7 linked regions of the Homo sapiens genome follow. The protein of the gene in region 2 purifies or fractionates together with the protein of the main gene of each other region. This does not show direct contact. Each region holds a gene or a part of one and is shown on either strand. Other genes may lie near its edges. The genes, in order: GPR161, PRKAR1A, ARFGEF1, G6PD, ANKRD26, PALM2AKAP2 and VAPA.

What was found.
Region 1: the proteins of PRKAR1A (region 2) and GPR161 purify together in Homo sapiens (affinity purification with mass spectrometry; 3 studies listed by BioGRID and IntAct, with this or other methods). This does not show direct contact.
Region 3: the proteins of PRKAR1A (region 2) and ARFGEF1 purify together in Homo sapiens (affinity purification with western blotting; 2 studies listed by BioGRID and IntAct, with this or other methods). This does not show direct contact.
Region 4: the proteins of PRKAR1A (region 2) and G6PD purify together in Homo sapiens (affinity purification with mass spectrometry; one large-scale study listed by BioGRID and IntAct). This does not show direct contact.
Region 5: the proteins of PRKAR1A (region 2) and ANKRD26 purify together in Homo sapiens (affinity purification with mass spectrometry; 3 studies listed by BioGRID and IntAct, with this or other methods). This does not show direct contact.
Region 6: the proteins of PRKAR1A (region 2) and PALM2AKAP2 purify together in Homo sapiens (affinity purification with mass spectrometry; 3 studies listed by BioGRID and IntAct, with this or other methods). This does not show direct contact.
Region 7: the proteins of PRKAR1A (region 2) and VAPA purify together in Homo sapiens (affinity purification with mass spectrometry; 3 studies listed by BioGRID and IntAct, with this or other methods). This does not show direct contact.

Annotation. Positions count from the first base shown.
Region 1 is NC_000001.11:168,126,931-168,130,430, forward strand, and holds part of GPR161 (G-protein coupled receptor 161), read right to left. Parts: intron 1-3,500. UniProt on the Homo sapiens protein: Key negative regulator of Shh signaling, which promotes the processing of GLI3 into GLI3R during neural tube development.
Region 2 is NC_000017.11:68,525,930-68,529,429, reverse strand, and holds part of PRKAR1A (cAMP-dependent protein kinase type I-alpha regulatory subunit), read right to left. Parts: intron 1,591-3,500; coding exon 1,530-1,590; intron 561-1,529; coding exon 439-560; intron 1-438. UniProt on the Homo sapiens protein: Regulatory subunit of the cAMP-dependent protein kinases involved in cAMP signaling in cells.
Region 3 is NC_000008.11:67,225,282-67,228,781, reverse strand, and holds part of ARFGEF1 (brefeldin A-inhibited guanine nucleotide-exchange protein 1), read left to right. Parts: intron 1-517; coding exon 518-558; intron 559-649; coding exon 650-819; intron 820-1,183; coding exon 1,184-1,335; intron 1,336-1,472; coding exon 1,473-1,645; intron 1,646-2,598; coding exon 2,599-2,759; intron 2,760-3,500. UniProt on the Homo sapiens protein: Promotes guanine-nucleotide exchange on ARF1 and ARF3. Promotes the activation of ARF1/ARF3 through replacement of GDP with GTP. Involved in vesicular trafficking.
Region 4 is NC_000023.11:154,540,347-154,543,846, forward strand, and holds part of G6PD (glucose-6-phosphate 1-dehydrogenase), read right to left. Parts: intron 2,107-3,500; coding exon of another isoform or gene 1,918-2,106; exon of another isoform or gene 1,866-1,917; intron 1,046-1,865; exon of another isoform or gene 892-1,045; intron 1-891. Other genes in the region: IKBKG (NF-kappa-B essential modulator), read left to right, coding at 1,918-2,106. UniProt on the Homo sapiens protein: Catalyzes the rate-limiting step of the oxidative pentose-phosphate pathway, which represents a route for the dissimilation of carbohydrates besides glycolysis.
Region 5 is NC_000010.11:27,013,495-27,016,994, forward strand, and holds part of ANKRD26 (ankyrin repeat domain-containing protein 26), read right to left. Parts: intron 1,218-3,500; coding exon 1,000-1,217; intron 1-999. UniProt on the Homo sapiens protein: Acts as a regulator of adipogenesis. Involved in the regulation of the feeding behavior.
Region 6 is NC_000009.12:109,783,198-109,786,697, forward strand, and holds part of PALM2AKAP2 (PALM2-AKAP2 protein isoform 3 (PALM2-AKAP2)), read left to right. Parts: intron 1-3,500. UniProt on the Homo sapiens protein: Binds to regulatory subunit (RII) of protein kinase A. May be involved in establishing polarity in signaling systems or in integrating PKA-RII isoforms with downstream effectors to capture, amplify and focus diffuse, trans-cellular signals carried by cAMP.
Region 7 is NC_000018.10:9,955,516-9,959,015, reverse strand, and holds part of VAPA (vesicle-associated membrane protein-associated protein A), read right to left. Parts: 3' UTR 1-3,500. UniProt on the Homo sapiens protein: Endoplasmic reticulum (ER)-anchored protein that mediates the formation of contact sites between the ER and endosomes via interaction with FFAT motif-containing proteins such as STARD3 or WDR44.

The sequences.
Region 1 (3,500 bases), on a different chromosome or scaffold from region 2:
CCTTGGAATCTTTACCAAACCCAGGTCTGAATTCCCTGTGACTGTGTGTGTGTCTCTTAATCTCTCTGAGACTCAATTTCTCCTAAGACAAAAAAGAGAGTAGATATACTCTACTTTATACAACTGCCAAGAGGAATCTACGAGGTAATGAGGGTAAAAGTACGAGCAAAAAGGTTGTCAGAAGATAAACTCAAGGAATGTTTACAAAAATTACTTAAGACATGAAAAGAAAACTCAATTCTTTTTTTCCCTTTCAAATTTTAATTCAAGCTGGCCGGGCACAGTGGCTCACACCTGTAATCCCAGCACTTTGGGAGGCTGAGGCAGGTGGATTGCCTAAGGTCAGGAGATCAAGACTAGCCTGACCAACATGGTGAAACCCTGTCTCTATTAAAAATACAAAAATTAGCCAGGCATGATGGTGGGCACCTGTAATCCCAGCTACTCTGGAGGCTGAGGCAGGAGAATACTTGAACCCAGGAGGTGGGCATTGCAGTGAGCCAAGATGGCGCCACTGCACTCCAGATTCGGTGATGCAGTGAGACTCCATCTCATTAAAAAAAAAAAAATTTAGTTAAAGACAGAGAGGTTTCATTCAACTACTGTATTAGTCTGTTTTTATGCTGCTGATAAAAACATACCCAAGATTGGGAAGAAAAAGGTTTATGGACTTACAGTTCCACATGGCTGGGAGGCAAGGAGGAGCAAGTCACATCTTACATGGATGGCAGCAGGCAAAAATTCCCATTTTTAAAACCATCAGATCTCATGAGACTCATGCACTATGAGAACAGCACAAGAAAGACCCACCCGCTCCCATAATTCAATCACCTCCCACTGGGTTCCTCCCATGACACATGGGAATTGTGGGAGTTACAATTCAAGATGAGATTTGGCTGGGAACACAGCCAGAGCATATCAACTACTTGTTGATGCGGAAGAGATGAAATGGAAGACAGAAAAGATGCATTGCAAGAGAATGCAAAGTGGAAGTGTCTTTGACTCCATAAGGGGCTCAGGGCCTGAAGATTTAAAGCCCCACTATAGGAAGATGCCCCCTCCCAGAACTGAGCTGCTGCAGCTACCACACAGATGCTCAGGCTGAGGGTTGTGGGCACCCAGGTAAGCAGCTGACTGAGAAATATGAAATTTTAATTTACCTCCACCTGTAACTGTGGGGCTGATATTCCATGCTTCCTTTGGCTCAAAACCCCTTCCCTGAAATTGCATATATTTTCTTTTTAAGCAGAAGAGCTGAAATGATATCAGTGAAAAGAATGAGGTTAGCTGGGGAGGGTCTGAAAATATCCAAGCAGTAGACACTGGATAATAATCAAACCCACTCCCTACCTCACTATCCTACATCACTGATTCTCAATCCCCATTCTCCAGATCCCGCACCTCTGGAAATGCCTGGAGACATTTTTGGTTGTCACACCTGGGGGATGCTATTGGCACCTAAGGCTGGGGATGTTGCTAAACATTTTACAATACACAAGATAGCCCCCAACAACAGAGAATTATCCGGTCAAAAACGTCAGTAGTGCCGAGGTTGAGAAAACCTGCTCTACACAAACAATTTGGGTTCATTCTTCTCATTCTGTTTTTTACTGTATGTACTTAATAAACAGATCAAGAAAAATAAAACAAGCCCTTCCATAACATACACATGCTCTGAGAAGACAAGAGATGGAAGCTGTGCTGAGAACAAGACTGAGATGATTACTTCTATCACAAGATAAAAAATAATGACTACGTGAATTAGTTTTTACCCTTAATTATTTTTTATTTATTATCCTCATCAAGCCAGGCAAACTAAGCCCATATTCCTAAAACTATATTATTTTTAAATAGCTGAAAGGAGTACATTTTTTTCTGATGGCCATATGTGAGATGGATGCCTCAGGCACAGGGCTGTCCCCTCCCTCCCTCACCATGATAGCCATACTGCCACTGGTTTCTGGACACTCCTATATTCTTGTTTTCCCATTCCTCACTGAGCTACACAAAATACATTTATTGAAGAGCTGCTCTGTGCCCAGCTCAACTCTACAGCTGGGGCATAGCCCTGAACAAGACATGTTCAAATCTCTCCTATCCTGAAGCTTACATTTTGGAGGTGGGGATACAGACAGTAAACAAATAAATTTAAAAAATAGGAAACAATTCTGGGTAGTAGGTACTGTAAAGAAAGATCAAACAGGGTAAGCAGAGAGGGAATGGGTGTCTGGGTCAGGGGTGGGTCATCAGGGAAGGCTCTCCAAGGACATGACATTTGAGCAGAGACCAGAAAATGATGCGAGGGAACCTCAGGCAGGCCAGAGAAGAGCCCTTGCAAAGCCCTGAGGCTGAAATGAGCTCGGCGTGTTTAAGGATTAGCAAGAAAGCTGGAGAGGAGTGAAGAAGAGAACAGCAGACTTTGGAGACAGTCGGGGGCCAGATTACAAAAAGCATTGCAGGCCTGGAGAAAGAGTGTGGACTGGATTCTACATGTGAGAGGAAGCCACTGGAGAGACATGACTGACTTACACTTTCAAGAGGTCACTGTGCCTGCTGCTGGGTGAAGGGGGGACTGCAAGGGGCAAGTGTGGAGGCAGGGACCCCAGTTAGGAGGCCACGGCTATGGCCCAAGTAGAGACAAAGGCTTGGACCAGGGTCATGGTAACAGAAGTGTTAAGAAATGTTTAGATTCACTAATCTCCTTAAAGACGCCAACATTTTGGAGCTAAAAGAGGCCTTCAGAGTAATTCATTCTAGTCTATCATTTTACAGATGACAAAATGAAAGCCCAAGGGGCTGAAATGAGTTACCCATAGTCATAGACCTAATTACTGACAAAGCACAAATTTCCTGACTGCCATCACTATACCTCTGCCCTTACCTGGCCAACCCAGGGCTGGGGTGGGCAATGCAGAAGACAGGTAGGCACAGGAACCCTCTAGAGGGTAGTCCTAGCCAAAGTCAAAATAAATGACTCTCTTTGCTTTGGGCAAGGTCACCCTAACATCCTAGCCAAACCCAATGGGCCCTTATTGAGCTCTCTGCAGCATCTGACACTTCTGACTCCTTTCATTTTTTTGAGACTCCCTCTTCCCTTGTCTTCCCTGAGCTCCTCTCTCCTGTCTCTCCGTCCTTTAGTTCCTTACCAGTCTTGCTTACCTGCTAATCATCCTACCCTGTAAGCGCTGCAGTTTTCCAAGATGCCCTCTGGGGCACTATTTCTTCCTTTCTCATCTACAGAGGAAATTAACTGTCGGCCTCCTCGATATCTCTTACCCTTGTCCAGCAGTTGCTCCTCTGGAGACCCACCCTTTTCACACACCACATCCATGTGGCTTCATGGATGTGGACACATGACCTATGCCTCGCCAATCAGCATCTTCGAACTTCCTTTGATGTAACAACAGTGTTGCTGAAACAGCTGGGAGAAGGACAGTTCCCCTTTCACATTGGATTTGAACCTGCAGCTTTCCCCCTTGCCAGAGCTGCTGGGGATCACC
Region 2 (3,500 bases):
CCGCTTAGCAAGAGTATCTGCTATACATTTCCATGGAATGTGGAGATATACAAACACAGTAATTTTTCAAATTTAAATAATTACCTTTAATCCTTATTTGCCAAATAGCCCAAACACTTGCATTTTAACAAGAATAGTGCAGAATCATCACAGTTTGTTATGTTAAATGGTTTTTAGAATTTGGCTTTTCATGTCTAGGGCCCTTCAAGAATTCTGACTCAAACTCATTTAAAAATATAGTGACCTGGCAGAAAACCAAACAACAGCATTTCAAAGTAAAAGATAATTTTAAAATAAAATGGTCAGGTATTCTTAAAAACTAAAGCTATAGTTCAGAATTAGCCCACTCTTTCCCTCTTAGAGCGTACAACTTTTTAAAGTATTAAATTCTGAGTTCTTTACCTCTAAAATTCAAGTATTAAATTCTGAGTTCTTTACCTCTAAAATAATGAAGAACTCATCCCCTGGTTCTCCCTGCACCACAATCTTCTGCCCATCTTCAAACTGCACTGGTTCCAATGCATCAGCTACCGTAAGACGTTCCCACTTGTCCAGAGACTCTGAAAGACAAGAATCAAAATAACTGCTCTGTATTATTTGGTGCTGTTATAAAGGTAAAAAGAAAGTATAAAGAGATTCAACCAAATAGCCATGCCCATTCAACATTCTAGTAGTGTCTCAGATTAAAAGTGGTACCTGTCTTCAATTACCTCTAGTCTGAGCAGGATTCTCATACTGCCTGCAGATAGCCCTTAGATCCTTACTTCGGTAGCCCAGTGGCTAGGTTAATTTATACCAACTGTACCAAATGGCAAGGGAATAAGAAAATGTAATCCTTAAGTATTCCTGAAGATTGCCATCAATGCAAATCAAACCTACAACTACAATACTCAAAAGTCATAGTTTCCCCATCCATATCGTTCCAAAGTTTCATAGAAATAATTTAATCTATTTAAATTCTTGGTTTACTTTATGAAAAAGAACTAGAAAATAACTTTTATTCCCAAAGGCCAAACTACTATCCAAAACACAAAGCATATGTAACCAATTCAAAGAAAAGACAAAGAAGAGGTGAAAAATTCACTGTAATAAACAATGGCAGAAGCCTGTTACCTTATAAAAATCCCCATTCCCCTTTCATGAAGAACAAGTTCTAACATCTCCAAGTCCACATAACAAAATGCACAAAAGAATATCTTCAATTAATCTGCTTTACTCTAAATTTCAACAAACTTCTGGCATGTTTTCAGAGGATGCCAGCAAATGATACCTAATCTTTCCACAGAGGAAATGTATTGTTGGAAGTACTCACTTTTCTGAACCAATCAACTCAATGATGGAACAAGAGAGACGGGAAGTCACAGAGGAAATAACTGTGAATGTCCACAGTCAGAAGGACTTTCAGCCCTTCTGTCTTTTCAGGGGGAATGAGTAGCAATTATACTTTCAGAAGGCTTTTCCCAAGTCCATCCAATTCTAATTCAGGGGTATCTCACATACTAGCAAAGTTAACACACTTTACAACTCACCTAAAATAGAGACTTTACTAAGGAATTCCTCATACATCTTCCGCTTTCTCAGTGTGCTTCCCTAAAAATAAAAATAACAAAAGTGATATCCCCAAGACGTGTAATTATCACCACATAATGCTATGGAATAATAAATATTAAGTTTCAAATAAATTTTAAAACCAGAAAGTCAAAGCTTGTTGCTTTTAATGAGGAAAGTTTAATTTTAACTAATTCATTTTTATTTTACAGGTAATGAATGATATGACATTCTTGTGATTTTTATTTTCCGCCAATATTATGCCCAATTCCTAGCATTTGCAACCAGTATGTTGACATATTTCACAAAGCATTTCCCAACTTCCAAATACAGTCGAAATACCGGTTTATACCTGAGCCTATCACTCAAGATATTTTTCCACACACTTTAAACCAATGTCCAATTTCCATGTTTACTCTCAAACTGATTTTGTGCCACTGCCAACCCAATTTATCTCTGAAAATATTTTCTCACAAAAGTAATCTAGGTCATTTACAACCCAATAATCCTAGTGTTCTTCCTGTTCAACGCTGGTATTTAAATGCAGATTCCTCCATTAGTTCTGGCTTCTCACCTATACAATTGACATGTCTTTATTCTATAAAAAAAGGACCATATCCTCCCCTACCCAGCTATATAGATATTTCACCCCATATCTACAGTTCCTAATTCCTGTCCACAAAGCCAAAGCATTGTGAGGCCCTAATTTCCTTTCAGGCCCACTATGAGAAAGTAAAATATTTTATTTCAAACCAATAGTTCCAGGTCCTACCTCTTCCTTCTTTGACAATGAGATAAAGCTGTAAACATTCTATGTTTCCTTTTACTAATAGTATTCCTGTAGAGGAAATGCAGAACTAACTGTATGGTCAGTTTCTTCTCCAGTAGACTGTCACATCACTTCAAAACCAATCTTTCTAAAATTTAGACTTATCTTTGCCATAAGCGTTTTTTTGTGTGTGTGGGTTTAAGGTTCAGGGGTACATGTGCAGGTTATATAGGTAAACTGGGTGTCACAGGGGTTTGGTGTTCAGGTAATTTTGTTGCCCAGGTAATAAGTAAAGTACACCACAGGTATTTTTCCTGATCCTCTCCCTCTTCCCACCCTCCACCCTCAAGTAGGCCCCAGTGTTTGTTGTTCCCCTTCTAGTATCCACGTGTTCTCATTGCTTAGCTCCCAACTGTAAGTGAGAACATGTGGTTTGGTTTTCTGTTCCTGTGTTATTTTGCTTAGAAAAATGGCCTCCAGCTCTATCTATGTTGCTGCGAAGGACAAGACTATCTATCTAATCTAATCTATCTATATATCCCAAATGCAGAAAAATTTCAAAGTACATCAGGCTGTACATTTTCAAATGGTCAGATGGACACTGCACAAATTTAAGAAAACCATTAAAAATGACCAATGCATTGGCTGAGACTTAAACATCCAAAGCTATCCTATAAATTTATCACAACGTTCTCAAAAAATCTGACTATCACCAGAAAGTTCCAATGGTTTTAGTATTTTGTTTATTCCTTTAACGAGAGGGGACATGACATACATATACATTACTGATAACCCACTTTCACAGGTTAGGGAAGCTGATTATTTCTGAATGGCCCCAAATAACTTTAAGCACTTAAAAGCAGCACCTATCATGCTGTAATGGGTATAACTAGGTAAATTAAGATGTGCCTACCAGCAAATGGATAGATTTCCAAACATGAGATGACCAGCACATATATACCAGATCTTGTTTCCCAAGGTTTTGTTCTAAAATATCACTGCCTAAAATGGCATAATGAATAATGCTAAGCTGGGCTTAATGCAAAGTATTTGCTCATTAAAAGAAAAATATTCGCTTATTAAAAGAAAGAAATATTTGCTCATTAAAAGAAATATTCTCTTTTTAATTTGGTAATATTCAAACATTAGTTACGTAGATGAGAATTCTAAATCACACTCTCAA
Region 3 (3,500 bases), on a different chromosome or scaffold from region 2:
CCTAAGGAAAGTGGTTTGGCCAATTCTTGGGTAAACTGAGACTATTTGCAAGGTTATATTAAGTCACTTTTAGTGTAAATGAACTTTCTAATCAAATATACTTTACTGGTAAAAATACGTCAAATTTTTCATTTTAAGAACTTGCTTAATGCTAGACAATAATCAGGAAAGAATCTGTAGTGTGCCAATTATTAGTTTTACAAATTAATATTTTTCTTATTCTTAGAATCTCATATCTATCCGGGGTTTGTAAATCTGATAAAATTACAGCAGTATATACTTACCCTAATAATAATATTGAATGTAAACTGGTTCACATGGAGTAGAGGTGGAGGGGAGGGAGAAACATCCAGACTACACTTGTTACTAAACTAAATGATGAAAAATACTCATTTGAATACCCAATTTTTTGTTCCCTTAAAACATAAAAATAGCTAGTACCCCATGCCACATACTTTTCAATTGGAATAAGAACAGTAACTTATAAATTTTTTAAATTGTGTTTTATTTTCCCTAGAATATTCACAGGATCTACAAGGCTAGATGGAAATGCCATTGGTAAGTATGGGCATTTATTCTACTTCGGAACTGGCTTGGGGCTAAAATAACTTTAATGTTGAGCTAAAAAAAAAATGTATTTATATTACAGTGGATTTTGTCCGTTGGCTCTGTGCTGTGTCTATGGATGAATTACTTTCCACGACACACCCAAGAATGTTTAGTCTACAAAAAATAGTAGAAATATCATATTACAACATGGGAAGAATAAGATTACAGTGGTCTCGAATTTGGGAAGTTATTGGAGATCATTTTAATAAGGTATTTGAATAACTATGGTGTTTGTTTACATTTGTAGTATATTTTTTGTTTAGAATGTCCTTGTAATCAAATTGAGCCTTTTTCCCTTCCAAGCAATTATTTATTACTTTTTAATATTAAATTAGAAAACCCTGTGAATGGTGTTTTTCTTTTTAGAAATGATTGCTCTGGGCTTTAAGAATTTGATTTAAAATATCTGTTTTTCTTGTTGAGAAATAGTTTTAGCATACTTAATGCCTTTATGGAAAATCTTAGGATTTACCTATCTATGCTATTCTATACTTTTTCTAAAACAAAAAATAAAGAATTGTAGATTTTTACTGCTGATATTAATTAGCATCGTTTATTTCTGTCGCCATTACAGGTTGGGTGTAATCCTAATGAAGATGTAGCTATTTTTGCAGTAGACTCCTTGAGGCAGTTGTCAATGAAGTTCTTAGAGAAAGGGGAGCTTGCTAACTTCAGATTCCAGAAGGATTTCTTAAGACCTTTTGAACATATAATGAAACGGAACAGGTACTATATTTGTTGAATTGCTTAATAGAAGGAAAATCTTGTTGTTTTCCACAGCAGGGAGAAAAACAGAAGAAAGGGGGAAAAACTGATGAGTTTTATCGGTTTGCATATCCAAGCAATTATATTAATATTTTTAGGTCTCCAACAATTCGAGATATGGTTGTACGGTGTATAGCACAGATGGTTAATTCTCAAGCTGCTAACATTCGATCTGGATGGAAGAACATTTTCTCTGTATTTCATCTAGCTGCATCTGATCAAGATGAAAGCATAGTGGAACTTGCATTCCAAACAACCGGGCACATTGTCAGTGAGTATTCTCTTAGCTGTGTTCAAGTAAAAGGAAAAAAAAAAAGCAACCTTAACGTGTTCAGAAGATGATTCAAGTAACAATAAGATTATGGCCTTTAAGTTTACCAAGCTTTGTCTACAGAACCAGAGTAAATAAAAACAATTAAATTACTATTATAGTTAACATTTATTGAGTATTTACCATATGGCAAATACTGTGTGCACTTTTCACGTAATTTCTTTAATCTTCACAGTTAAACATTATTGTCCATCCCTTTTTTCAAAATAGATTAGGAAACTCAGCCCCAGAAAGGTTAAGCAGTCTATGTAAGGTCACAGAACTAGTGATGGAGATGGTCTTGAGACCCATGGAGTATTAAAGCAAAGCCTTTATTTTTGACCAGTAAGTACATTGCACAGCCTTCTTCAAGGAGGAGTCCCCTTAAGTTCAAGGGGGACTGACTGAAATACTAAGATTATAAGTTAAGCCTATATGGAAGATGACAATGATGACCATCAACATCAAGAATCATGGCATCATCATAGCTATCATTTATTGCGTGCTTGCTTAAGTATTACACTAAGCACTTCACTTATATTATTTTACGTAGTGCTTACAGCTATCTGTGTATATTATTATTATTTCCATTTTATATCAAGAAACCGAGATACAGAGAGGTTAAGTAATTTTGTATATTCATTCAACCAAAGTTGAATCAGTACCTACCGTGTACCAGTCACTGTATTAGGTGCTATGTTTATAATGTAAACAAAACAGACAAGTTTTACTATTCTCACCACTCAGGGCAGTCAGTTAAGTGGTAAAGATAGTCTTGAACTTCGTATCTGTTGGATGTCAGAACCTGTAACAACCTTTAAGAGGAAGTGCATTACATCTAGATGTTGGTGTATTTTTGGTACAGCTAAGAATAATTGAAAAATTATAGTAATATATATTTTTCTCTATTTTAGCCCTTGTATTTGAAAAACACTTTCCAGCGACCATTGATTCTTTCCAGGATGCAGTGAAGTGTTTGTCTGAATTTGCGTGCAATGCAGCTTTCCCAGACACAAGTATGGAAGCAATTCGACTTATTCGCCATTGTGCAAAATATGTGTCTGATAGACCTCAGGTATAGCGTCATTTAGTAAACAAAATTTTGCAGAGTATTCTTTCCAATTTGAAATCTTAAGTTTGTTTGGGAATTGAGGGTATATGAAGCATTTATTTTTCAGTAATTTGAAAAATAATCTGAGCAGCCTGATTCCAAGTTAGGATGGTTAGTGATTATAACTAACCATTATTGAAAGTGTCAGGTATTTTTCTGAGTGTTTTTCATTAACTTGTATTAACTTGTTTAATCTTCTAATGGCTTTATGGGGTAGATAGTGTTATAGCCCCATACAGACAAAGAAACTGAGGCACAGAGAAATTTTAAAATGTGCCCATAGTTTCAGGGCTAGTAAAGTAGAACTAGGGTTTGAGCCCCAGCCTGTGTTTCTAACCATTCCCTACAGTGCATCTTGTCTGTCTGTGCTGTGTAATACTGAAGCTGACTGACTATGGATGAGAATAGGCTTAAGCTCTAAAGTAAAAGGTTGAATTGAAAATCTAGCTGCCATATTTAACTTGTATATTTGAATCTATCTTTGTAACTGTCATAAGAGAAAGTGATGTATCGTAGATTTGGTAATAAGATTTTATTCCGTACTACCATGGACCGATCAGGTGCTTGGTACTTTTTAGATACGTCAACTCATTTCACCTTCATACTTCACCAGTGTGGTTAATGTGGCTGTCTGGTATCATAACCATTTAAGTGATAAAAATGGAAACCTGAATTAACCTGGCTAATAATGCAGAAAGCTGGTGA
Region 4 (3,500 bases), on a different chromosome or scaffold from region 2:
TAGTCCCAGCTACTCGGGAGGCTGAGGCAGGGGAATTGCTTGAACCTCGCAGGTGGAGATTGCAGTGAGCCAAGATTGCGCCACTGTACTCCAGCCTGGTGAAAGAGCAAGACTCCATCTCAAAAAAAAGAAAAAACAAAAATTAGCTGGATGTGGTGGCAGGCACCTGGAATCCCAGCTACTCAGGAGGCTAAGGCAGGAGAATCACTTGAATCCAGGAGACGGAGGTTGCAGTGAGCCAAGATTGCGCCACCAAACTCCAGCCTGGGTGACAGCAAGACTCCATGTCACGAAAAAAAAAAAAAAAAAACACATGCTCTTCGAAGCAATCAGGCACTGCAACCATGGATGGGTCCATTTCTACAAACCATTACAGAATGGGGGCCATGCCACCAGGTCAAACGCCCTCACCCAGAGCCAGGCAGTTAGGAAGCCACCACAGGGCTTCCAGGAGGGCAACTGCTATGGTGTGGGTGCCTTGTGTGCTTGCGCTCTTCAGGGGCCCTGCTCCACTTCTGATGCTCCTCAGGTGAGCTCGGTGCCAGGACTACAGCGACACGGACCTCTCACTGCTGCACCCTTCAAAGTCCAGCAGACAACCCCTCGCCCTGGGGTAGGAGCTCCTCTACTCAGCTCCTCACAGCACCTGCCATCAGTGGGGCTGGGGAGGGGAACGTTGCCCATGTCACATCAACTCACGGCTGGCCCCACACAGAAAGGGTCAGCTTACTGGGAACTAACTGGACCCTGAAATAAACGGAAAGAACCACAGCCTGCAAATACCTCTAAGCCTCACTCAAAGCAGGTCATGTTTGCTCATGACCAAATTCCGGAAGACTGGGAGGCATCGGGACAGACTCCAGAAAGGTACTGGTGGCAGGGGACTGGTCTGCTGAGTCACAGCAACCCCACGCTCCAGGCCGTTTGTTCCTGCTGCTCCCTTTGGGATTAACTAGAGATTGAACCGGCTCACCTTGTTTCAGCTCAGGCCCTGCAACCGACCGACCGTCTGCTGGGCTCCAAGTCACCTGAGAGGCGAGGTGAGGTAAGACGGACAGTAGGGGTGGGGTAAGGCAGGCCGCTCTCTCCCATGGTGACAGGGAGCTAAGCTGAGCTGAGCCGGACTGAGCTGCTCTCCTCAGGACTCAGGGGTAGCCCTGCCCTCCCAGCTGGCTGCGATGCTCTAGTGGGACTTTCTGGAGGAACAAACATGGGAAGACATCGGGAAACCTGACAGCTTGGTCAAGAGTCTACTCGTGCCATGTGGGTGGGGGCAATTCAAGGGGTCCTTAGTGAAAAGCAGTTGGGAGCTTCTCATCTTCCCCACGCCCTCCTCTTTCCTGAGGACCACAGCAGGGGAGGGATCTGCCCAAGGACACAAGGTGACTTAGTAGAAGCAGGGCATGATGAAGATCTCTAGCCACCAACATCTGGCTAGGCCAGGGCAAAGGGACCTGGGCCATGACCTGTCTGTTTTATAAACCGAAATCGCTGCAGCCCTTGTCTTGGCATGAGGGTTTCATGGTAGAGCACGATGCCTGCTGGAGGGCCAGCGGGGGTGGGCCATCCCATCCCCAAGGGTCACTGGGGTTAAGGACCTGCCCAGACTCCCTGGGTGGAGCCCTGGGCCTTGGCAGGGGCCCAGCTGGTTCCTGGCCACTGGGGCCAGAGAACCTGGGGGCTGCTGAGTTAGTTCAGCTGAAAAACCAACAAAAGGGCCTCCCTGCTATACCCGGGGGCTCATGAGTCACCGGGGCTTTGGGGGAGTGCCAACATCATCATGACACAGCAAGAATCTTATCAGACCAATGGGGAAGTCAGCCCAGAAATGTTCTGAGGAAAGGGGAGGCGGGGGCCGCTGGGTCATCCCTCCCACAGGCCCATCATTGGGATGCGTCCTGAACGCCCATCAAGCCCATGGCCCTTGTGATCCAGGTGGGGAAACTAAGGCCCAGAGAAGTGAGGACCCCGCAGACTATCAATCCCAGTCTCTTCCCCTCACTCCCTGTGAAGCTCTCCAGCATCATCGAGGTCCCATCAGGTGGGGAAAGATGCTGTTCCAGGCGCACACTAGTCTACAAGGCCAGAGCTTTCTGGAAGGGGGCAGTAAGTACCTCGGCTCCCTTTCTGGTAGGGGTGGGAGTCCTGAGAAGGCAGGAAGTGGCCCACTTGGTAACTCTGAGGTGCCATCAGGGCCCCCAGGAAGGAAGCTGGGTGTGTGGGCAAGTGTGAGGTAAGCTGGCCAGGGAGGAGGAAGGGACAGAGGAAGGCCACGTGGGTCCAGCCTGCCCCAGGGTGTCCTGCTTGCCCAGGCTGTGGGTCTGCCAGCCACTTGCCTGCTTTCAGTTTCTAGGTCATGCTGAGCTTGTTCCCAACTCGGGGCTCCGGGCATTTGCTCTTCCTTCTGTGTTTGTGCTCTCCCGGCCCTCTTTGTGGGATCTATGCGCTTTGGGGGACTGGGGACACAGGGCCCATGTGTATCTTCTGAAACACACGTCAGCCTGAACTCTTGCTGGTCTGCTTACTTGCCGTGGTTCCCTGGCCGCAATAGCACATAGGTCCCATGAGGAGGGCAGGGACTGGCTGCTGTGGCCCAGAAGTACCCAATCGCTGTCTGCTCAATGAACGGAGAATGGGCTGCTTTCCTGGAACAGCAGATTCTAGGATCACGTGCCCTCAAGTGCCACCCTGCCTACCTCCCGCACCGAGTGAGGCATCAGGCGTGGAAGAAGCCTGGGAGCCGGAGCTGTTCCAGGTGCTGCCTGAGCACGCCACCTCCCATCTCCCCCACAGCAGGAAGAGGAAAAAACAAACCACGAGGCTCTTCAGAGAGAGGACCCCTTGTCCCCTACCCACAGTGCTGGAGCTGGCACTTCCTATTTCTGCTTTGAAAGCCTCAGGTTGTCACTCTCAGAACAGAGGAGAGCAAAGGGGAACCCTACTGATTTCAACAAAACAAAGTTGCCCAACCCGAAGCTGGCCACAGGCGGAGGCAGTGAAATGACAAAATCAGCTTGGAAAAGCCTAAGGACCCTGGGCCCTCGTTTCAAAAGCTGTCATTTGCTACACGAAATGCTGAGGTTCAGGAAAAGGAAGACACTTGCTCCAACTCACACAGCAAGCTTGGATGCTCTCAATGAGGTGTCTAATAAGAGCTGAAGGCCAGGAGTCATAAGCTATCATTGTGGCCTGGGTTGCTCTGTTGCAGTGCCTTGTGACAGCATGGGGTGGGGATGGAGAAAGCAACCTCAGTTACCTTCTCCTCCAGTCTGCTTCTTGGACTAAGGGTTTAACGGTCAGAGTCCTGGCTGTTAAGGTTTGTGGCTGATGCAGGTATGGCTCTTTTTATTTTTATTTTTTTGAGATGGAGTCTCACTCACTCCGTCACCCAGGATGGAGTGCAATGGTGCCATCTCAGCTCACTGCAACCTCCACCTCCTGGGTTCAAGCGATTTTCCTGCCTCAGCCTCCCAAGTAGCTGGGATTACAGATGGGTGCCA
Region 5 (3,500 bases), on a different chromosome or scaffold from region 2:
ATGTTAATTTGCTTGACTATAATAACCATTTCACCATGTACAAATATATCAAAAACATCATGTTTTGATACATACAATTAATAAAACTAATAACAAAGGAAAAAGCCCAGCTAAAAATACTTGTATTTAGTAAACCAGTTTAGAGATTAAAAAATTCCTCAAGACATGTGCAAGCATTTGCTTTCACCACCCTTTTACATTTATTTCACCCATTATCTGGAAAAATATTAGGCATCTGGCCCCAAGGAATAATTCAGAGCAAAAAATTGTAGGGGAAAAGAAGATAGCTGAGTTGGTGATCAAAAAGAACTAAAGAGTCTCAAAGGCAGTTAGCTCCTAACATTGTCCCCAAGGCATCAGAGGTGGGGCCTGACCTGTTTTCCACACACTCCCTCAGGCTGACCAAGGTGTTATTTTTAACCACTTTATAAAATATACTTCCCTTCATCCCTACGTTAATCATTCCCTATTTCACTAGCATGCCTTTAAGTAGTAGAAAAACTATACAGGGTAGTTTGTCTCATGGCACCCTGTAGTGATAATACCAGATATCACAATCAAGGAAAGTTCATTTATGGAGTGCCAGAATGTGCAGAGTAGTAGTGATACTTGACCCTTCTGGTTTAAGTTGTAATTTTCCAAAAAACAGCCCAACTCATTAATAATTATATTTATGGCAATGCTGATAAGCAATCTGATGACAATATCAATGTCTAAATTACAAAGTTTTAAAAGCACATAGCTGAAAGACATAGATCCAGTTAACTACCTAAGAATATTAACGGAAAAGCCATATAAAATTAAAAAAAAAAAAACAGAGGAAAGACATAAACTGTCCTGGACTCACATTTTAAAGGTAAGTTAATTTACTAACATTTTCCAAAATTATATTACCTATTTAGCTTTCACTTCCCATTAATCTCATGAACCTAAGAATTATGCTTTCAAGGCAAATTAATGAGCTTAATTTATTTCCTATGATTCTATATTTTGACTTACTTGGTTAGTTTACTTGACAAAGATTTTCTAACTTTTAATTCTTCTAGATAGAGTTGCTTATATTTTTCCAGTTCGGTTTTATTAAAGTCTTCTTGAGAAGTTTTTATTTTGGAGAGTTCAGATTCCAGATCTTTAATTCTGAGTTCCATCTGACTTTTCATTGAAGCAAAATTATTCTCTCTAAACTGCTCTAAGTTTTCTTGAGATGCTGCTTGTGCCTAAAACAAATTAAAAGCATATGTTTTAAAAATATATAACCTGAGTAAGACCATGGTCACCTACTCGGTGTCTAAGGGCTGTTTTGTTTTTAACCCAAACTCCAAAAAGAGAAAGATCTCTGTGCCAGCAGGCATTGGTCAAAGAGATAAGAGGACATCCCAGGGTTCTAATTGAAAAGGGAATCCAAATACTTCCAAAGAAATGAAAGTGAGTTTCTACTAGAGAAGCATTTTCATCCTTGATGAAGTAATCAAAACAATAAAGGCTGACTGGCAACCCAGATGTCTAACGATGGGGGGAAATGTCATATAGAAAATAAAAAATTATAATTGGTAACATAAGGAAAACCTAAGAAAGAAAATGACTACAAATGTGGAGATATTTTCGAATGAAAAATCTTATAAAAATTATTTTTGTGTTAAAATATATTCATGGGGAAGACTTGAATATGCTTAAAAATTTTGATGTGATATTCCATTTTATGAATACACCTGGCAAAGTAAATTAAAGCAATCATCTGTATGTAAGATACAGGAACTTAGAGCTTCTTAGGGATAAATGCTGTGCGCATCAATACATGCTGAGAAAAAAGCCCAAGGTGTTGGATCTCTTACAGTAATTCTACCTGCTGGAGCATAAGGTTATGGAATCACCTGGACTACAAGTAAAGGAATGTGGAGTGTGATCCTGAGCCTGACTAGCTCTATGGCTTGGGCCCTGCTGTTTAACCTTTCCCTAGGTCTCTTCATCTGTAAAATGGGAAACTACACTGGCTTATCACTAAGATTTCTTCCTATTCTCATTCCATGTCTCTAAGAGCTAACATGCAGAGCTTTGTAAGACTATCATAAATACCATGTGAAGAAATCTGTGTTATCATGGATTGTTACCACCTTGGCCTTGTAGATTGTGTTCCAAGACTCCTATCTCTCACTAGCCTGAGGGAAGGGAAAGAGCTGAGAATGAGGAGTGAAGACTTTCTACTCTCACAACGGCTACATATTTTCAAGTGGCCCAGTTGAAATTTCTCTGTTAATTTTCACATCCTTTCCACCAGTTTGCACCCTCCATCCTCTCTCATAAGCACAGGGGTCCCACGCAGTTCTCAATCGCTCTTTATCCCAACTAAAACAAATTTGTTAAATTATTGAGTTTTAATCACTCATAGACACACAAACTCATGTTATTAAGTAGATTTTTATCACTCACTCAGACACACACACACTCACACACTCATATACCCATGTGGGTAAGAGAGGAAAGACATTCCTTTGGCTTTGTTTATTTTAGAGACAGGGTCTCAGTCTGTCGCCCATGCTTCAGTTCAGTGGCACAATCATAGCTCACCGCAGCCTTGAAAACTCCTGGGCTTACATGATCCTCTCACCTCAGCCTCCCAAGTACCTGGGACTACAGCCATGCACCACCATGCCTGGCTAATTACTTTTTTAAATTTTTGTAGAGATGGGGTCTCACTTTGTTGCCTAGGTTGGTCTTGAACTCCTGGGCTCAAGTGGTCCTCCCGCCTCAGCCCTCAAAGTGCTAGGATTACAGGTGTGAGCTACCATGCCCAGCCTAATTTGTTTGTTTTGTTTTGTATTTGAGACGGAGTCTAGCTCTCACCATCTTGCCTCACTGCAACCTCCGCCTCCCAGATTCAAGCAGTTCTCCTGCCTCAGTCTCCCGAGTAACTGGGACTACAGGCATGTGCCACCACGCCTGGCTGATTATTTTTTTAAATTTTTTAGTAGATATGGGTTTTCACTATGTTGGCCAGGCTGGTCTGGAACTCCTGACCTCGTGATCCGTCCACCTCGGCTTCCCAAAGTGCTGGGATTACAGGCATGAGCCACCGTGCCCAGCTTTGTTTTTTTTTTTTTAAGGCAAAAACAACACAAGTTGTGTTAAAGTCCCAGTGGTTTCCTGGGATGAAGTAGGGGGAATTAACTGCAAAAGGGCAAGAGAGAACTTTCTGGAAATGTTCTCTGTTGAGAGGGTGGTTAAGCAAGTATATACTTGGGTCAAACTGTTAAAATGGTTGTGTTTAATTATTTGTAAATTATCCCTTAATAAAATTTAATTTATATAAAACCTGGGTAATTATTGTGTATTTTTTTCCTTTACTTTTGAGTTAGTGATTCAGAGAGTAATTTTAAATATGTGAAAAAAAAGCTGAAGTTTAAAATATTTATCAGCCAGGTTTGGTGGCTCATGCCTGTAATCTCAGCACTTTGGGAGACCTAAGCAGGAGGATCACTTGAAGCCAAGAGTTCGAGACCAGC
Region 6 (3,500 bases), on a different chromosome or scaffold from region 2:
AAGCACCTGGCAGGTAGCTGTCATTGGATGGTGTTGAGCAGAGCCCTTAGCTTTTGTCTGTATTGCTGTCTTGTCCTGTGGGGGGTCAGAAGCAACATCTCTGAAGTGGAATGTGTATTAATGACTTTTTTTTTTTTTTAGACAGAGTCTCACTCTGTCACCCAGGCTGGAGTGCTGCCATGACAGCTCGCTGCATCCTGAAACCATCCTCCCACCTCAGCCTCCCCAGTAGCTGGGATTACAGGCATGTGCCACCATGCCCAGCTAATTTTTAAATTTTTTGTAGAGATGGGGTTTCGCCATGTTGCCCAGGCTGGTCTGGAACTCCTGACCTCATGTGATCCTCCCACCTCTGCCTCCCAAAGCACTGAGTTTAGAGACATGAGCCACTATACTTGGTCTGAACAGCTCTTTTTTAATCCCTTCCTTCAACTGACTGAAAGTCAGGGCCCTGCCCAGCATCACTTTCTCTAACTGCTTTAGACAGAGGCAGAGATATGACTTGAGGATTCATTCATCCATTTGTTCAGTAGGTATTTACAGATTGCCTCCTCTGGGAAGGTATTGGCAACACTGAAAAGTTGGTGTCCCCAGGTTTCAGCTGCCTGAGGCTGAAACCTTTATTTCACCTTTTGCACATAATTTCTTGAAGGACAGATGTCCTGATACCTAAGATGCTTGTCACATGAACATCTGTGGAATATCCGCCCCCACCAACAAAACTGAATTAAATACTTAGAAACTACAGTGCTTTAATGGAATCTTCCATTTGGATCCAGGAACTAATCAATGAGAAAAGATGACTCTTATCCTAATTTCTGCCAAAAGAAGAGCAAGTCCATCTTTGACAATGATCTCTACACTCACATGCTCCTTTCTTCTGTAGGGATACTCCCCAAACTTTACATTTAGAACATGGTAAAAAGCCTCTGAAACAGCATGAGTGAGAATGGTAATCCCAGGGACTAATAACAACAATTGCCATTTATTGAATATTGTTCATTCAGAAAGGCACGGTGTGAAATACTTTTTGTTTTTCACCTAACGTTATTTATAGTCTAATGGAAGAAATAGAAAAGCACATAAGCAGTTACTATCCAGGAGTACTATGAAAATGAGCATCCAGGAGGAACATGTAAACCAATCTCAGAGTTGTGAAACAATTCCCCAAAAAGAAGACATTAGAGTAAGTCCTGAAAATTGGGTAAAATAAAATATAAAATAACATCATAACCTTCCCAATTACCAGGAGGCATTTGTTTATTCGTTATTTGATTATTATTTATTCAGGACATTTAGTGTGAGAAAGGGAAAGGCAAAAGCATGAAGAAGTTAAGTCAGTAGCTAAAGACACAAACTCAGAGTGAACACTGAAATGCTTTTCAGCATGTATTATCTCATTGAATCCTAATAAGAAGCTTATGAGGTAGGCACTACAGTATTACTCATATTTTATAGGTGAGGAGGTTCTAGAACTGGTCTAACATTAAACTGATAGTATCAAAGCCAGGATTTGAATGCTGCCCGCAGCAGGCCATTGGAGCCTTTGCTTTGACTGCTGCCCTGAGCTGCCACCCAAGATGGCGGCAGCGTCTCGCACTTTTCCCATGAGCACACTGTGCAGGTGGTCTCAGCAGCCTGAGTGTGAGCCACAGACTGATTCCATTGCAATGGGAAAGCTTGAGACAAGCCAGGAGGCCTACCTCCTTTTGAGAGTCTTTCAAGCCTGGATTCAGTGCATAGAAATACCCAACATAAAATTTAATGGAACGAGTAACATTCCCATGGGGAAGAAGCTGTTGTGTCTCAGTGGAAACTAACCTTGTGGGAGGGTGCTGTTATGTCTGCACATTGGAGAGGAAGATAGTTTTCTTTGGGCATGAGTGAAAATAAGTAAATGTTATATAAATTGTCTTGGGTGAAACTCCTAAGAGCCACGTGGACAAGGCTCAGGCTACACCAGGGACCAGCATGAGTATGTTTATATATGTGCGGAAATAGGAAATGCTAATCTAACCTATGCTGTTCTTTAGGGAATTTTGTCATTTAATTAGAACCCACTCTGTGAAGTAATAAAAATGATCTTTGCATTTGTGCAGTACTTTATAATTTATGAAAACCTTGTATATGCTACCTTCTTCCTGAGGTGTGTAGAGCAAATCTTATACGCTTTACAGGTGAGTATTCAGAGCTATCCAAGCTTACACAGATAGAGGTGGAAGAGTTGTAGTAAATCCCAGCCTCTCCTGACTCCCAATTCTTGTATTAGTCCGTTTTCACCGTGCTGATAAAGACATACCCGAGACTGGGTAATTTATAAGGAAAAAGAGGTTTAATGGACTTATAGTTCCACGTGGCTGGGGAGGCCTCACAATCATGGCAGAAGGTGAAAGGCACATCTCACATGGCAACAGACTGGAAATGAGAGCTTGTGCAGGGAAACTCCCCTTTATAAAACCATCAGATCTCGTGAGACTGATTCACTATCACAAGAACAGCATGGGAAAGACATGTCCCCGTGATTCAATTACCTCCTACCATGTCCCTCCCACAACACGTGGGAATTCAAGATGAGATTTGGGTGGGGACACAGCAAAACCGTATCACTTGTGTTAGTGGTACATCCAGCCTTGGAAGGGTGCTTTGATACGGGCTGAAACTGCAACTAAGATCCTGCTGGACTAAAATCTTCTGGCTGGGAGGAGAGGAGTGAGCTTGGATGTGTCTCTATGGAATATGCCCTTGTTAGGATTTCACTTTCGGCCTCTTTCATTCTTGAAATTCTCACCAAGGGGTCAGCTAGTGAGTTTATGGCTTTCATCTGATTCTATTCTCAGTCCTGCATAGACCTGGGTATACGCTGTTGGCCTAGGCTGGCTGTGCCGTGGGCTTACAGAGAAGTGCTCATTGGCTTTTCGTTGGATTCGCCTCTCCATGCCTTTTCTTGCCTGGGAGCATTACAGCCTTGAGTACCAGGCTTGGAGTGTGGGGCCAGTGGCCAAGGAGGCCACCACCCTGCTTTTGGTCCAGGCCTTTTAGGCCGACCTGCACAGCATGGGCAAAAAGTCCTTGCAATGATTTACATACTATCCAGTCCAGCTTCCCAAGGATCCCTCAGAGGGGTTAGAGACTCAAACCCAAGCCCTGTAGAAACAGGCACTGTGATTCATGTGGGGACCATCCCCATCCATGTTCCTTGTGGACTTGTGTTATTGGTATGCAGCTGTCAGAGAACTGGAGAATTTAAGATCCTGGTCATTCATCTGTTATCTTATATCTCAGAGATGCAGATGACACCCTGCTTCTAAAATTCCATGTTAAGGCCTAAAAAATCATTTGCGTGGTATATTGGTGCTGAGGAAGGGTTCAACTTGGCTGAGTCTGTGAAGCTGCCCACTGGATAGGTGACACTTTGGGCCCATGCAGGGTCATTGCTGTGTCTGGGAGTGCCAAGGCAGGCCTTACCCAGCATGCATAAGGGTCACACACCTCCCTGCTAC
Region 7 (3,500 bases), on a different chromosome or scaffold from region 2:
CTAAGTAATAAGCATGTTGAAAACGACATTATACTTGAAAACCACCTTTTGCTTTGAGAAATACATGATGGACAAAATAAATTTCTCAGGTAGGTAGGTACACTGGGTGTCAGCAAAATGGCAATTAATACTGAAGCCCACATTTCTCAAATCGCCTTTTTGCGATGACAGCTCATTTATTCACAAGTCAAAAATCTTTAGTGGTATTCCAGCAATCCTAACTTGACAAGCAAAGCTTTTATGCAATTTTTTTTAAGCAATACCTAACAGTGACTCCTGCAGTTTAAAGAAAAATAAGTATTTTAAGTTCCCCTGTATTGCTGAAGTCAAGTCTTAATTAAATCTACTTCATATCTGCCTTTGGCATTTAAAAACCTACATAAAGCAACTGTCTGGCCGATGATTGGAGCTTGAAAAAAACTACCATGCCAGATCTCCACCCCAGACCAATTAGGTCAGTATCTCTGGGGGTGCTATTCAAGCAACAATTATCTTTTATGTTCCTAAGCTCATCATGAGTTAAGGTACTGCTATAGTTGAATATCACTACTACAAAAGTTATCTGAATAACTTCCTATATACTCTCTTTCAAGATGGGTGTTATACATAGCAACAACTGGAAAACAAGAAACTGAGTTTTAAAACAAGAAATGTGGCAACAGGAGGATATGCATAACTAGAAGGGAATTGTCAAGAGGCCAGGCCAATCAAATGTTACATTATAAAATGTCCATAACCTTAAGAAAGTTAACTATAAAAACAAAGCAAAATGCTTTTAGTCACATTTATACTTGGTTTTCAATAAACCACAGAAATTAAGCTGGAAAAAAATAGGATACAACTTATAATTAGTGATTATGCTTAAAGAACATTAATATTACAGGGAAATGAATGAAATGTTCCTAGCAATTGATGCTGCTGAAAGGCAGAATTTGGAATTTTTTATATTTTCCAAAAATTGCCTGAAGTGCACACACTGTGTCAGAAGGGCAAGACAAACTTTCTTTTTCCTTAGTGATATATGTTTATACTTCTTTGCACCAACCCACGAGCGGCTGGGCATTCATTCCCAAGATGCCACTGCTTACGCGAAGAAGCGTGGTGGTAGTCTACCAAAAGTGGGGCTATGAAACGTGGCATGAAAATCAGCTGTTCTCACTTCCTACTAAAAAATAGTTAACTCCATCTCACTAAGCAAGAGACTATCTGCCATCAGAATTCAAGTCCCAGTGATTAGCTATTAATGCTTAACAGGATATAAATGCACAAACCACACAATCTGTTGAAATTTTTTTTGTATTGTGAAAAGGAAAAGGACACTTCACATTTTTAAAGTTTATTCATGAATGGTTTAATTTCCCTTTAAAGCTAGAAAATAAAGATCATTTACCTTCTGATCTTCGTTTTTCCAAATGGTAATAAGCATTGATCCTTCCCTCGAATAAAGGTGAAATTTTTAAAATCTCAGTGAATAGGAATGTGCAAAGCTCTAAGAAAACTATTACTTGAATGTCTCTAAAGTGGTAGAAGATCACAAGTTGGGAATACCCTCAAAAACTATATTTTTACCCTACTGTTAAAACTTGTTTTCAAAGTGGTGTAATCTGAAAGATTACAGTTCAAAAGTAATTCCCATACCAAATAATATCAACTTTAGGTGAACATCTAAGTATTTAAGAGTATTATTTTTCTTGGCTGGGTGCGGCAGCTCACACCTGTAATCCCAGCACTTTGGGAGGCCGAGGCAGGCGGATTCAGGAGTTTGAGCCCAGCCTGACCAACATGGTGAAACCTTGTCTCTACTAAAAATACAAAAATTAGCCGGGCTTGTTGGCTCACACCTGTAATCCCAGCTACTCAGGCGGCTGAGCCATGAGAATCACTTGAACCCAGGAGGCGGAAGCTGCAGTGAGGTGAGATCACACCACTGCCCTCCAGCCTGGGCAACAAAGCAAGACTCTGTCTCAAAAAAAAAAAGAAAGAATTACTTTTCTTTGATCGGAATTTCTGAATTTCATACATTTTTCTTCCAAGTGTCATTTTTTTTTAAGGGAACATACCACACACTCAGAACATAATGACTTAGCTTCTTGTAAATATAAGAATGGGGGAAGTTAAGGTACATTAGTTATAGAACGAAGGAAGCTAGTGCATTCAGTGTCACATATGAACTCAAGGCCTTAGTTACTTGATTGTAATTTCAGTATTAGCAACAGTGTATTTCCCTCATGCTTACATATACAAGTAAGCAGGCAGACAAAGCAAAAACTTCTAAACATATAAGGAATGAAGACAAACAATTTAATCTCTATATTATCATATTATCAGTCAATTAATACAGTTGGACTTTCAAACTATAACTGTTGGTAGTAAAATAATCTGATCACATTTCATACAGCAATTAAAAATAACAGAAACAGAGTCTCACCTATACAATCAGAGCATCTCCTGATATGAACAACAGTTAAGCCCACATACATTTTAAAGATGCTACCCAGACTACAATCTATCTCAAAAGCAACCATGGCATAATGCATTTTATAAAATGCCTACCTAAAAATACATTGTATTTTGTAATGTTTATTACCAATGTGGGAGGCATTTCTAGCCTAAACACTATAACCAAACTATTCAACAGTAAGCCGGTAGTAGTCTTACAATAAGAAATTTCACATATACTTGTTATTATAAATAGCATTTTATGTTCATTATTTCAGCCATCTCTCAAACTAAGACAATTTTCAACAGTTACCAGAAGACACTGAGCTAGAGTCAACAGACCAGATATCTAGTTCCAGCTCTGCCTCTACCTACCTGTGAGACACGGGGAAAGTTCTCTTAACCTTCGTAAGGCCTCAGATTTCTCAACCATAGAACAAAGGGGCTGAACAAAATGAATTCTAAAGAGCATTCCCATAAAACGGGATTTGGCTAAATTTTCAAGAACTTAATTTCTTTAAAAAAAGATAGCTATGAGATACCAAACTTGGTATTTACCACCAATAATATTGATTATATAAGAGCTTTAAGCCAAGGAATTACTGATTCTGCATTTATGGGGTGAAAATATAAGACTATTTTTAGCATGCTTTTCCAGTTACCAGAAAAGGGGAGAGGGGGATTTTTACAAAGACAGTAAAGCATACAGCAATGGCAGTAAAGCATGCAGCATAGCATGCTAGTAATGGATAGGCATTACTTGTGTTTCCTTTTAGGAACTTTTGCACACAAGCAAGAGGTTTTATAAAAGATACCACAGCGCCCAATAACACAATATATGTGTGATCTGACAAATTCAAAACACAGTTGAAATGAAAAGGCAACCAAAATACTTCAGAGTACTTCATTCTTCTATAAAATGTGTACACAGACCTGGGCCTAAAATACTTCACTGCACCACATCCAGTTCTAAAATCCAATTTCCTTTTCAGGTAGAGCGCATCTTTTAAAAAAAGAGCCAACACACCTATGTTTAAGAATAAAAATTCACTTGTACTAGA